Homo sapiens: one gene and its partners. The protein of the gene in region 3 purifies or fractionates together with the protein of the main gene of each other region. This does not show direct contact. Each region holds a gene or a part of one and is shown on either strand. Other genes may lie near its edges.

The links.
Region 1: the proteins of HENMT1 (region 3) and MTHFD2L purify together in Homo sapiens (affinity purification with mass spectrometry; 2 studies listed by BioGRID and IntAct, with this or other methods). This does not show direct contact.
Region 2: the proteins of HENMT1 (region 3) and RAD51C purify together in Homo sapiens (affinity purification with mass spectrometry; one large-scale study listed by BioGRID and IntAct). This does not show direct contact.

The regions. Positions count from the first base shown.
Region 1 is NC_000004.12:74,161,086-74,164,738, forward strand, and holds part of MTHFD2L (bifunctional methylenetetrahydrofolate dehydrogenase/cyclohydrolase 2, mitochondrial), read left to right. Parts: exon of another isoform or gene 1-694; coding exon of another isoform or gene 695-742; exon of another isoform or gene 743-1,168; intron 1,169-3,653. UniProt on the Homo sapiens protein: Bifunctional mitochondrial folate-interconverting enzyme that has both NAD/NADP-dependent methylenetetrahydrofolate dehydrogenase and methenyltetrahydrofolate cyclohydrolase activities.
Region 2 is NC_000017.11:58,713,049-58,716,701, forward strand, and holds part of RAD51C (DNA repair protein RAD51 homolog 3), read left to right. Parts: intron 1-3,653. UniProt on the Homo sapiens protein: Essential for the homologous recombination (HR) pathway of DNA repair. Involved in the homologous recombination repair (HRR) pathway of double-stranded DNA breaks arising during DNA replication or induced by DNA-damaging agents.
Region 3 is NC_000001.11:108,658,944-108,662,696, forward strand, and holds the start of HENMT1 (small RNA 2'-O-methyltransferase), read right to left. Parts: upstream 2,151-3,753; 5' UTR 2,065-2,150; coding exon of another isoform or gene 2,020-2,064; intron 1,020-2,019; 5' UTR 942-1,019; coding exon 921-941; intron 1-920. UniProt on the Homo sapiens protein: Methyltransferase that adds a 2'-O-methyl group at the 3'-end of piRNAs, a class of 24 to 30 nucleotide RNAs that are generated by a Dicer-independent mechanism and are primarily derived from transposons and other repeated sequence elements.

The DNA of each region.
Region 1 (3,653 bases), on a different chromosome or scaffold from region 3:
TGCCTACAGGTCTTTATGGAAGTTTCACCTTTCTTTGTGTCGCACTGGCATCGGCTGTATAATTTTTGCAGCTAGACCACATTTTAAAAAAATCTACATTTTTGGAACTAGTAAAAGATACTTATTTGTGTTATTTAAGTATTCACGTCTTTTACCGTGGGTAGTTAAGTTTAATAATTTAAAAAGACACATTTTATCAGTAACAATGTTCATTTTATTTTTCAGACTCTTCCCTCTACTACTTACTCTGTATTTCTGTCTCTTCTAATGACTAGGAAAGGCAGTTTCTCAAAATCATCTTCTATTTAGTTGGCAAATGTGATAATGTGGGTAGTGTTCCTACCTTCCTGCTGTATGTGTTCTACTGAAATGAGATATAATAGCCATCTGGCTACAATTTTGATTTCTAAGAAGTTCTTATGTCATTTTAAATTCAAAAACTAAGTGTTTCAACATTTGGTCTCTCATATCTTAAGTTTTATTTTCTTTGTTCCAGCTGTTCAGAGATAGTGTGTTCTAATATCTCCACAATCAAGATTTTTGACTAAAATGGATCAGTACATGAAAAAGAGGGACTAGTATTAATTTTAGATCTTGTTAGTTAATCATGGTCTTACTAATAATTTGGCAAGTTCTTTAATGAGCCAAATCTTTGTATTTCAAATGCCTTGAAGTTGTTATTCTTTCCTATTAGTACCCTGATGGGAGGATGAAAACAGCAGAAAGGAGCAGCACCAGATGATCTTTTCATGGGCACGTACTCTTTCAAGGAATCCCATGGAGCTCAGTGAAATTACACTTTGGCTTAGAGATAATTAAGTTGTGGAAGGAGGTTTAAGAGAGGAGCTTAGGTGAAATTTGAGCTGTAAATGAGTATGCTAAATTAAAGAAATGATTAGTAATAAATGAGATTTGCTATTAAGAAATTCACTTTGGATCTGAGACAACATTTTACATACAATGTAGAAAACTTTATGGTCAGAACAGAACACAGTCTGAACCTAAATTAACAGTAGTGTTAAAGAATTCAGGGCGGGATATTATCCAAGAAGGCCTAGCCAGCTGCTCCACTTAATGTTACATCACAAGTGGTTTCTGTGTTGCTATTGTTTTTATTAGCATTTCAATGACTGTGTCATATTACATTAAATCAATTGGCTCTAACTTACCTAACCATCTTGCTGCTTTTTATTGTCTAGTTCTTGGAAAATATGTAATAATTTACTCTCAGATTGAGGTCATGTCCTTGTCAATGTCATACCAACCAGGTTTGTTCACTGCATCATCTGAACGCTATGTAGGTTTCTATAATTAGGCTCATTAGAGTGTTCCTAGATCCAAAGACTATCTAAAGATCTAAAGATTCATAATTCTAAAGTGAGGGTGTGTGTATAGTTTACAACAGATGTTCTCTCCCCACTTTTTTTTTTTTTTTTTTTTGCTGTTTGTGATTAACTGGAACTGCAATGAATGCCATCATGCTTTTAAGGAATTCAGTTGTATTGTTGAAAAATACAATTTTCTTAATATCTAAGGAGCTCTTAGTCAGTGGTAAGCACTTTGCTGAGATTTTGCATATACAGTATGTCCTTCGATCCTCACAACAACTAAAGGAAGTAGATAGACACTATTACTATTCCCAGTTAACAGATTGAGAAATTGAGGCTTAAAGAAATTAAACTTGTCAAGTTGACACAGTAAATACATGGTGAAGACAAGGCTTGAACCCACATCATCTTTCCGGTGTTCTTCTCTACAAGCAGTTTATAATTATTGACTTATCTTACTTTTTCTTCTTTTTGAAACATTTATTAATATTAAATCTCATACAACTTTTGTGAATCTAGAAAGCTAATTTTGCATGTAAATTTTAAAATTATTTTGTTAGATTCCCTCAGTTTGAGATGTTCTTAACCTGGGACCTTATGGATAGAATTCAGAGGATCCATAAACTTGGATTGGAGGTTACTAACTTCTGATAAATTGAGCATTTTTTTTTTTCCATTGTTAGTGTTGGCAACAAATACATAATATCATCAGTACATGTGACTTGCTAATATAATTTACAGATATTTCAGTATCACAAAGTTGAGGCAGATACCACAAAACATCATCTGCACATCACTATTTTGTTATGGTAGTTAGACCTACCACTAGATCCTGTTATTTAATACTTTTAAAAAAAAGCATTTGATAATATTTCAGTAAAACTGGTTTTCCTTGTAATCTGTATTTTATATTGAATGTTTAAAAGGATTGTTCTGAGAAAGAGTCCACAGGTTTCAGCAGATAGGCCAAGAGCTTTTGTGGCACAAAGCTTAGCATCTAAGGTTCTTTCTGACAAAGTTAGTTTGAAAACAATGGATATTGTTTAGTACAGAGTCAGAAAGTTAACTAGTTAAAAAACTGGATACGAAGAAGAGTCATATATAATGAAAAGGTATTTTACTTTTTATTGATTTGCAGATGTAATTTCTAGTAAAATTACTTCAAGATGTGAATAGGGTACTTGGGGTATGAAACAAATTTTTTTAAAGAGGTCATAAACTTAACACTTGCAGGTATTCATTTATTTTAATAACACACTTCAAAAGACTCCCTATACTGGTGATTGGTTTTATTCCCTATGGAATTTTGCCCTGTTTTTGGGGGGTTTCATTTCTATTGTACAAACTCAAGACATCGAAGATATGCCCTAAGATATAAAGCAATTAAACTGTATGTTAGGGCCTGGGTAGAGCTTGGAATTGTTAATCATTCTATTAGGATTTTTCGTCTTTTTTTGTTTGTTTGTTTTGTTTTTTGTTTGAGGCAGAGTCTTGCTCTGTCACCCAGGCTGGAGTGCAATAGCACGATCTTGGCTCACTGCAAACTCTGCCTCCCGGGTTCATGCCATTCTCCTGCCTCAGTCTCCCAAGTAGCTGGGACTACAGGCGCCCGCCACCACGCCCGGCTAATTTTTTGTATTTTTAGTAGGGACGGGGTTTCACCGTGTTAGCCAGGATGCGTCTTGATCTCCTGACTTCGTGATCCGCCCGCCTCAGCCTCCCAAAGTGCTGGGATTACAGGCGTGAGCCACCATGCCTGGCCAGGTTTTTTCAACATTATAGAGATAAAATGGTTCATTGCAGCTCTAGTTGAAGTCGTGAATAAAGATGAGATTGAAACTAAGATATGGATTTGCCAAGTATACGAATTAAATAAACTCTTGATCTTGACTAGGTTTTATTTGTTGGTAAGCTACTTTTTTGTGGAAGAGTATTTTGATACATAGAAATAATCCTCCCCCTTTGTTATTTTGCTCTAGTTTATTAAATAAATCATTTGATTCTAATAAGCGTAGATAAGGTGGTTAGTTTATTTTCTGGAAGTACAAGTAAACAAGCCCATGGAAACAGCACTAAGTGCTGAAGACTTTCTGCTCTCATAATGTTTCTGGTTATCGAAATATGTCTCCATCTGTAATTTAGCAGAAACTAAGAGAAAGAGCCACTTTTGCAAACCAGCCCATGAACTTTTAGCCAAATCCTCTTATGTAATGTAAGGTCAACAAGAGAGTATTCCCATTATATAGATGAAGAAATTGCATGCCGTTGAGAGAAGCTAAGTGACTTGCCTAACTTTATTATTGCTACTAATGGTAACCCAGAGCT
Region 2 (3,653 bases), on a different chromosome or scaffold from region 3:
CTGGGAGGCAAAGGTTGCAGTGAGCTGAGATCGCACCACTGCACTCCAGCCTAGGCAGCAGAGCAAGACCCTGTCTTCAAAAACACAAAAAGAAATGAAAATGAGGTCATATTATACATGCTATTATGCAAAGCAGTTTTCTGTTTTTCACTTAATATATTGTGAACATCTTTCCATGTATACTACTTTTTTTTTCCATGTACACTACTTATAAGTCTGCTTTACACTAACAGCTGCATAGTATTTTGCTGTATGACTGTAGCATAGGTTTTTTTTGTATTTGTATTTGTTTTTGGGTTTTCTTTTTTATGAGACAGGGTCTCGCTCTGTCATCCAGGCTAGAGTGCAGTGGCATGATCTTGGTTCACTGTAGCCTCAATCTCCTGGGCTTAAGCAATCCTTTCACCTCAGCCTCTTGAGTAACTGAGACCACAGGCACACACCACCACACCCAGCCAATTTTTAAATTTTTTGTAGAGGCTGGGCACGGTGGCTCACACCTATAACCCACCACTGTGGGAGGCCAGGGCAAGCAGATCACTTGAGGTCAGGAGTTCAAGACCAGCCTTGCCAACATGGTGAAACCTTGTCTCTACTAATAATACAAAAATTAGCCAGGTGTGTTGGTGCTCACCTGTAGTCCTAGCTACTTGGGAGGCTGAGGCAGGAGAATCACTTGAACTCGGGAGGTGGAGGTTGCAGTGAGCCAAGATCACACTGTTGCACTCCAGCCTGGGAGACACAGTGAGACTCTAGCTCCAAAATAAATAAATAAATAAGTTTTTTGTAGAGATGAGGTCTCACTATGTTGCCTAGGCTGTTCTTGAACTCCTGGGCTTAAGGGATCCATCTGCTTCAGCCTTCCATAGGCATGAGCCACTGTGCCCACCCTGTAGCGTAGTTTTTTTAACCACCTCCTTATTGATGGTCTCTCTCTTTTTTTTTTTTCTGTTTTAGATAGAGTCTTCCTCTCTCACCCAGGTTGGAGTACAGTGTCACACTCTTGGCTCACTGCAGCCTCCACCTCCCAGGTTCCAGAGCTTCTCATTCCACAGTCTCCCGAATAGCTGGGATTACAGGCGTGCACCACCACACCTGGCTAATTTTTGTATTTTTAGTAGAGATGGGGTTTCACCATGTTGGCCAGGCTGGTCTCAAACTCCTGACCTCAAGTGATCGACCCTCCTCGGCCTCCCAAAGTGCTGGGATTACAGGTGTGAGCCACCACAGCTAGTCTAGAATAAATTTCTTAAAGTGAAAATATTAAGCCAAAGGAATCGATTTTTGAACATTTTGTTTTATGTTATAAAATTACCCTCAGAAACTATGCTCCAAAGTATGTCTCTACAGCAATGAATGGGAACTCTTGTTTTCCCATATCTTTACCAACTTTGGGTACCAGTCTTTTATTTATTTATTTATATCTTTGAGACGGAGTCTCGCTCTGTCGCCCAGGTTGGAGTGCCATGGCGCGATCTTGGCTCACTGCAACCTGTGCCTCCTGGGTTCAAGAGATTCTCCTGCCTCAGCCTCCCGAGTAGCTGGAACTACAGGCGCGTGCCACCATGCCCGGCTAATTTTTTATATTTTTAGTAGAGATGGGTTTCACTGTGTTAGCCAGGATGGTCTCGATCTCCTGACCTCGTGATCCACCCGCCTCAGCCTCCCAAAGTGCTGGGATTATACGCGTGAGCCACCACGCCCAGCTAGGTACCAGTCTTTTAAATCTTTGCCAAATTGATATGGAGAAAGTCCTTTAAAAATATGTTTTTTGGATTATTGGCATAATTTTTTAAACAGCCTTAATGACATATATGATTCATCCTTGCAGTGTGCACAATTCAGTGATTTTCAGTGTATCCACAGAGTTTTGCAAACATCACCACTGTATAATTTTAGAATATTTCCGTCATCCTAAAAAAGAAACCCCAACCTCACAGTGAATTTCAGAATATTTAAAATGTCTGCTCCTTCAGTGTCACGTTTCAAATCTCATGCAAATTTTTCTTGCGGTCAACTATAACTTTGTACCCTATGGAGAAAGTAATTCTGGTTCTGGGAAACACACAGTTCCAGATTATTAAAAAAAAAAAAACAAAAAAAAACAAAAAACCTCTTTTCAGCTGGGTGCAATAGCTCACCCCTGTAATTCCAGCACTTTGGGAGGCCAAGGTGGGTGGATCACCTGAGGTCAGGAGTTCACAACCAGCCTGGCCAACATGGTGAAACCCCATCTCTACTAAAAATACAAAAAAATTAGCCAGTTGTGGTGGCAGGTGCCTGTAATCCCAGCTACTCAGGAGGCTGAGGCAGGAGAATTGCTTGAACCCAGGAGGCGGAGGTTGCAGCAAGCCAGGACCGCGCCATTGCACTCCAGCCTGGGCAACAAGAGCGAAACTCTGTCTCAAAAAAAAAAAAAAAAAAAAACCCTTTTCATTAGCTGTCATTCTCTATTCTACCCTCCCCCAGTCCCTCACAACCACTAGTATGCTTTCTGTTTCTGTGAATTTGTCTTTTCTGGACATTTTATATAAGCAGATCATACAGTATATGGCCTTTTATGTCTGACTTCTTTCACTTAGCGTGATGTTTTCAAGGTTTATCTGTATTTTAGCACCCATCAGTATCTTTTTAATGACTAATTTTGCATTTTATGGATATATCACATTTTGTTTATCTGTTCATTGGTTGAAGGACATTGCATGGCAGAAATATTTTTAAAGCTCTGAAGTTCATAATTTCAAGTGATTGTTACTTTACTGTTTTAAACTTTTGACCTGGCATGGTGGCTCACGCCTGTAATCCCAGCACTTTGGGAGGCCAAGCTGGGTGGATCACCTGAGGTCAGGAGTTCGAGACCAGCCTGGCCAACATGGTGAAACTCTGTCTTTACTAAAAATACAAAATTTAGCCAAGCGTGGTGGGGGACACCTGTAATCCTAGCTACTTGGGAGGCTGAGGCAGGAAACTCTCTTGAACCCAGGAGGCAGAGGTTGCAGTGAGCCGAGGTCATGCCACTGCACTCCAGCCTGAGCAACAGAGCAAGACTCTGTCTCGAAAAAAAAAAAAAAAAGCACTTATTCTTTAGAAGCTTGGCATAATCACATACTAATTTTCAGTTGTATCATGGAGGCCAATCGTTTTGCAAAAGTAATATAATTGCTATATAAATATTTGCTAATAATGGAAATTCTAATTTTGGCATGTTGAATACCTGGTAAATCAGTAGTTTGATTTATATTTTCCTAAAGATACGTAGTGCGTAAACTAAGTACTCTCTCTAAACCAGCACTGTCCAGTAGATCTGATGGAAAGATGAAAATGTACAGTCTAGTACAGTAGCTGCATGACTGTTCAGCACTTGAAATATAGCTAATACTACTGAGCTACTGAATTTATGATTTTAATTTAACTTTTTTATTTATTTTTTTTGAGATGGAGTCTCACTCTGTCGCCCAGGCTGGAGTGCAGTGGCGCGATCTTGGCTCACTGCAACCTCCTCCTCCCGGGTTCACGCCATTCTCCTCCCTCAGCCTCCCTAGTAGCTGGGACTACAGGCGCATGCCACCATGCCCAGCTATTTTTTTGTATTTTTAGTCGAGACAGGGTTTCACCATGTTAGCCAGGATGGCTTTGATATCCTGACCTTGTGA
Region 3 (3,753 bases):
ATACAAGTAGGCAACTTTCTTGTAGCCCAAGAATTGGAATTATAATCGGAATTAGAATATTTAAACCAATATATCGAAAATATAATTTTTACATAAAATCAATATAAGAGATTTTAGATTCTTGTTTTTCACATTAAGTCTTCAAAATCCAGTGTGCTACATATTTTGTACTTCTGCGTCTCAGTTCCAAAACCTTCATCAGAAATACTTGTCTGTATTGGATTTAAAAACTTTACATTTAAAATATACATGCACATACCCAAGTTATTCCAAACATACTTTTTTCCAATAATGTAATCAAATATCCAATTTTAAACTTAAAATTAAAAATGAAGTTATGAGCCCAGGTGGTCAGCGTTGCAGTTAACCGTGACTGGGCAAGTGCATTCCAGCCTGGGCAACAGAGCAAGACCCTGTCTTAAAAAAAAAAAAAATTAAAGTTCGGTTCCTCAATTCCACTAGCCACATTTCAAGTGCCCACTTGCCATGTGTAGCTACTGGACAGCAGGGAGCTACACCCTAGGTACTCCCAATGTGGTTTCCAAACCAGTGGCATCTTCACCTAGAAACTTTAGAAACACAAAAGCTTGGGCCTCACCCTAGACCTCCTTAAACAGAATCTGCAACTTAACAAAATCCCCAGGTGATCCATATACACAACCACATTGGGGAACACTACTTAGAGTGTTTTTAAAATAGATTTTGCTACTTTAACACCTAGTGATAAAAGTAAAAACATTTATTTTACTTACATACACCAAATGTGACTCTTTCATCTATGTATACCCTTGTTTACCTCAACCAACACCCCGGGAAATGCTAGGACCTAAATGTGATCAATTTTGTTTGCAATTATCTCACAATACATCCAGGTGATAATTCTTAAGAGTCAAAGACGCAGCTAAGAAGGGTGGCATTACCTGTAGATTATTTTCTTCCATTTTGTTTCGAAGTTTTGTTGAAACAAAAATGAAGATTTATCCTTCAAGCTCTATTTGAGAGAATCAGCACTGACTCAGCTGTAATAAATACAAAACCGTTTTTGTAAAGCGATACCTGAAAGAAATAGCTGCCTAGTTCAGAAGGGAAGAACGAAAGCCTCTTTCTTACTCCTTACTACAGTATATAATTTAAATAGAACGCTTAAAAGTAAATAATGAATTCACCTCTGAGTACTCAAAAAAAAAAAAAAAAACACGAAAGCAGGACTCGAACAGATATTTATACACCGAAGTTCATAGCATTATTCACAATAGCCAATCTGTGGATTAAATGTGGACTACCATTTAATCCACAGAATGTATCCAGTATTTTTTCAGACATTCGCAAACAGGCTCAGAAAGCGTAACTTTTCACTACGTCAAACCCTACTAAGAGCGAAAACAGCCATCCTTTCCCTTTACTATCATGAATAGTTCAACTAGATACAAACGGAGCAATCTTAGGAGTTCTGCCCATTTCATTGCTAAGACCCTCAACTTCAAATTTTTTCAAAAATTTTTCCACACATCGTCAAAATGAAATTTCGAGGGGGAAAAAAAGTGTCCTTGATAAACTAGAGATGCTCCAACATCTATTCAATTCACTCACGAACTTGAATTTAAATTTTAGTTCTCTATTGCACATGTGTCTCCAACAACTAGACTTTAATCTGGAATCTAGGCAACATGTTAGTCACCAACTTGTATTAAGAAACCCTGGCCGGGCGCGGTGGCTCACGCCTGTAATCCCAGCACTTTGGGAGGCCGAGGCGGGCGGATCACGAGGTCAGGAGATCGAGACCATCCCGGCTAAAACGGTGAAACCCCGTCTCTACTAAAAATACAAAAAATTAGCCGGGCGTAGTGGCGGGCGCCTGTAGTCCCAGCTACTTGGGAGGCTGAGGCAGGAGAATGGCATGAACCCGGGAGGCGGAGCTTGCAGTGAGCCGAGATCCCGCCACTGCACTCCAGCCTGGGCGACAGAGCGAGACTCCGTCTCAAAAAAAAAAAAAGAAAAAGAAAAAGAAACCCTGCTCACTGAAACCAACGCTTCTGTCTTTGTACGGGCCGTCGCTTCCATCATCCTGCGGTAAGCAGCATGCCCAACCGAAAAAACAAAGCTCGTCGCGGAGCCGCCAGCGTCCTCAACTCAGCGCCGCCCTGACGCCCGCGCACGCACGGCCTCGCTGCGTGACGCTACCGCCGCGGCTACGCCGGCGCCCGCACCCGCGCCTCGGCCTCCCCGCGGGGCTCGCCAACCTCGTGCGCTCTCACGGTCGGCCTTGGGCCCCGGGAGCCTCATGGTGCGCCGAGCTCCGTCCCTCTAGGCTCTCAGTTCCAAGGCGTCGGTTTTGCGTCTCGTAACGGCCGCTGTGGCGCATGCCCAGAAGCCATTTTCAAGGTCCTCTTCCGAACCTTGGCGAGGACCCCTGCGCCTGCCGCGCCGTTGACCCCGCTAGCGTGCGGCTGCGACGCGGCACGGTACGGCAGCTGTTGGCGAAGGCCCCCAACTCCGAGCGCGTCCGCAGACCGCGAGCCGGAAGGCGGCTTGGGCGGCTGTTGAGTTCGTGGCGCTCCCGAGGCGTGGCAAAGGCCTAAAAACGGTCCTGGCCAGCGGAAGGCGGCAAGAGGAGCAGCAAGGCTCCACGCGAGGCGGCCGGCGGCTGGAGTCCCAGTCAGCCTCCGCTTTCATCCCAGAGCAGTCCACGGGGGCCTTAAAGGAATGTAGGCTGGGTGAAGTTGGCCCAGTGACACCTGCGTTCAGAAAAACGTTCTTTCCGCTCCCAACGCCCCCTCTCCACCGCCACCCGACCCCCGAAATAGTTTTCCCCGAGTGTTGTGGATAGAACTGTTGATCTCTTGGAAAAGTTATTGTATCCTGCCATCCTTCCCTCTGGAGACTCCACTTAATATATATAAGTACTTTCTTTCCTGTATATGATGGAAGAGTATTAGGGGGGTGAGGGGAGGGACGAAGCTGCCTTCTTTAGGGAAAAAAGATTGACTTATATTTTGAAAGATGCAAAAGCTGGTGTTTTTGCTACTGAATTAATAGCCTATTAATATGCCACAAATGATATATTGGAACTGTATTTTCAAACATTTAACGCCTGCTGTATGCAAAGCACTATGCTGACAGCTTAAGGGTACCACAATGATAAATTACACCAATCTTGTTTTTGGCATTTTGGGGAGTCTAGTGTCATAGGTAAAGAAGTACATAACTAACAATAAGCTTCAAAAATTCAATCATAAGGCCCGGCACCGTGGCTTCCGCCTGTAATCCCAGCACTTTGGGGGATCACTTGAGCCCCGGAGTGTGAGACCCCGTCTCTACCAAAAAAAAAAAGAAATTAGCTGGGCATGGTGGTGCCTGCCTGTGGTCCCAACTGTTTGGGAGGCTGAGGCCGGAGGATCACTTGACCCCAGGAATCTGAGCCTGCAGTGAGCTATGATTGCACCACTGCACTCCAGTCTGGGCGACAGAACCAGACCATGTCTAAAAAGAAAAAACACTCAGTGATAATTTCACATTACAGTTTGAGAGGTTCCTGTTGACTTGGGGAAACTAGTTTTAGCAGACTTCATTAAAGGAGTGTACACCTTACTACAGGATGTAATTTAAAATAGAATGTTTAAATAATAAATTCACTTCTGGGTATATACTCAAAGCAGGAATTCAAACAGGTATTTGTACACCAAAGTTCGTAACAGCATTATTCACAGTAGCCAAAATGTGGAAACAACCCAAATGTCCATTAAAGGATGAATA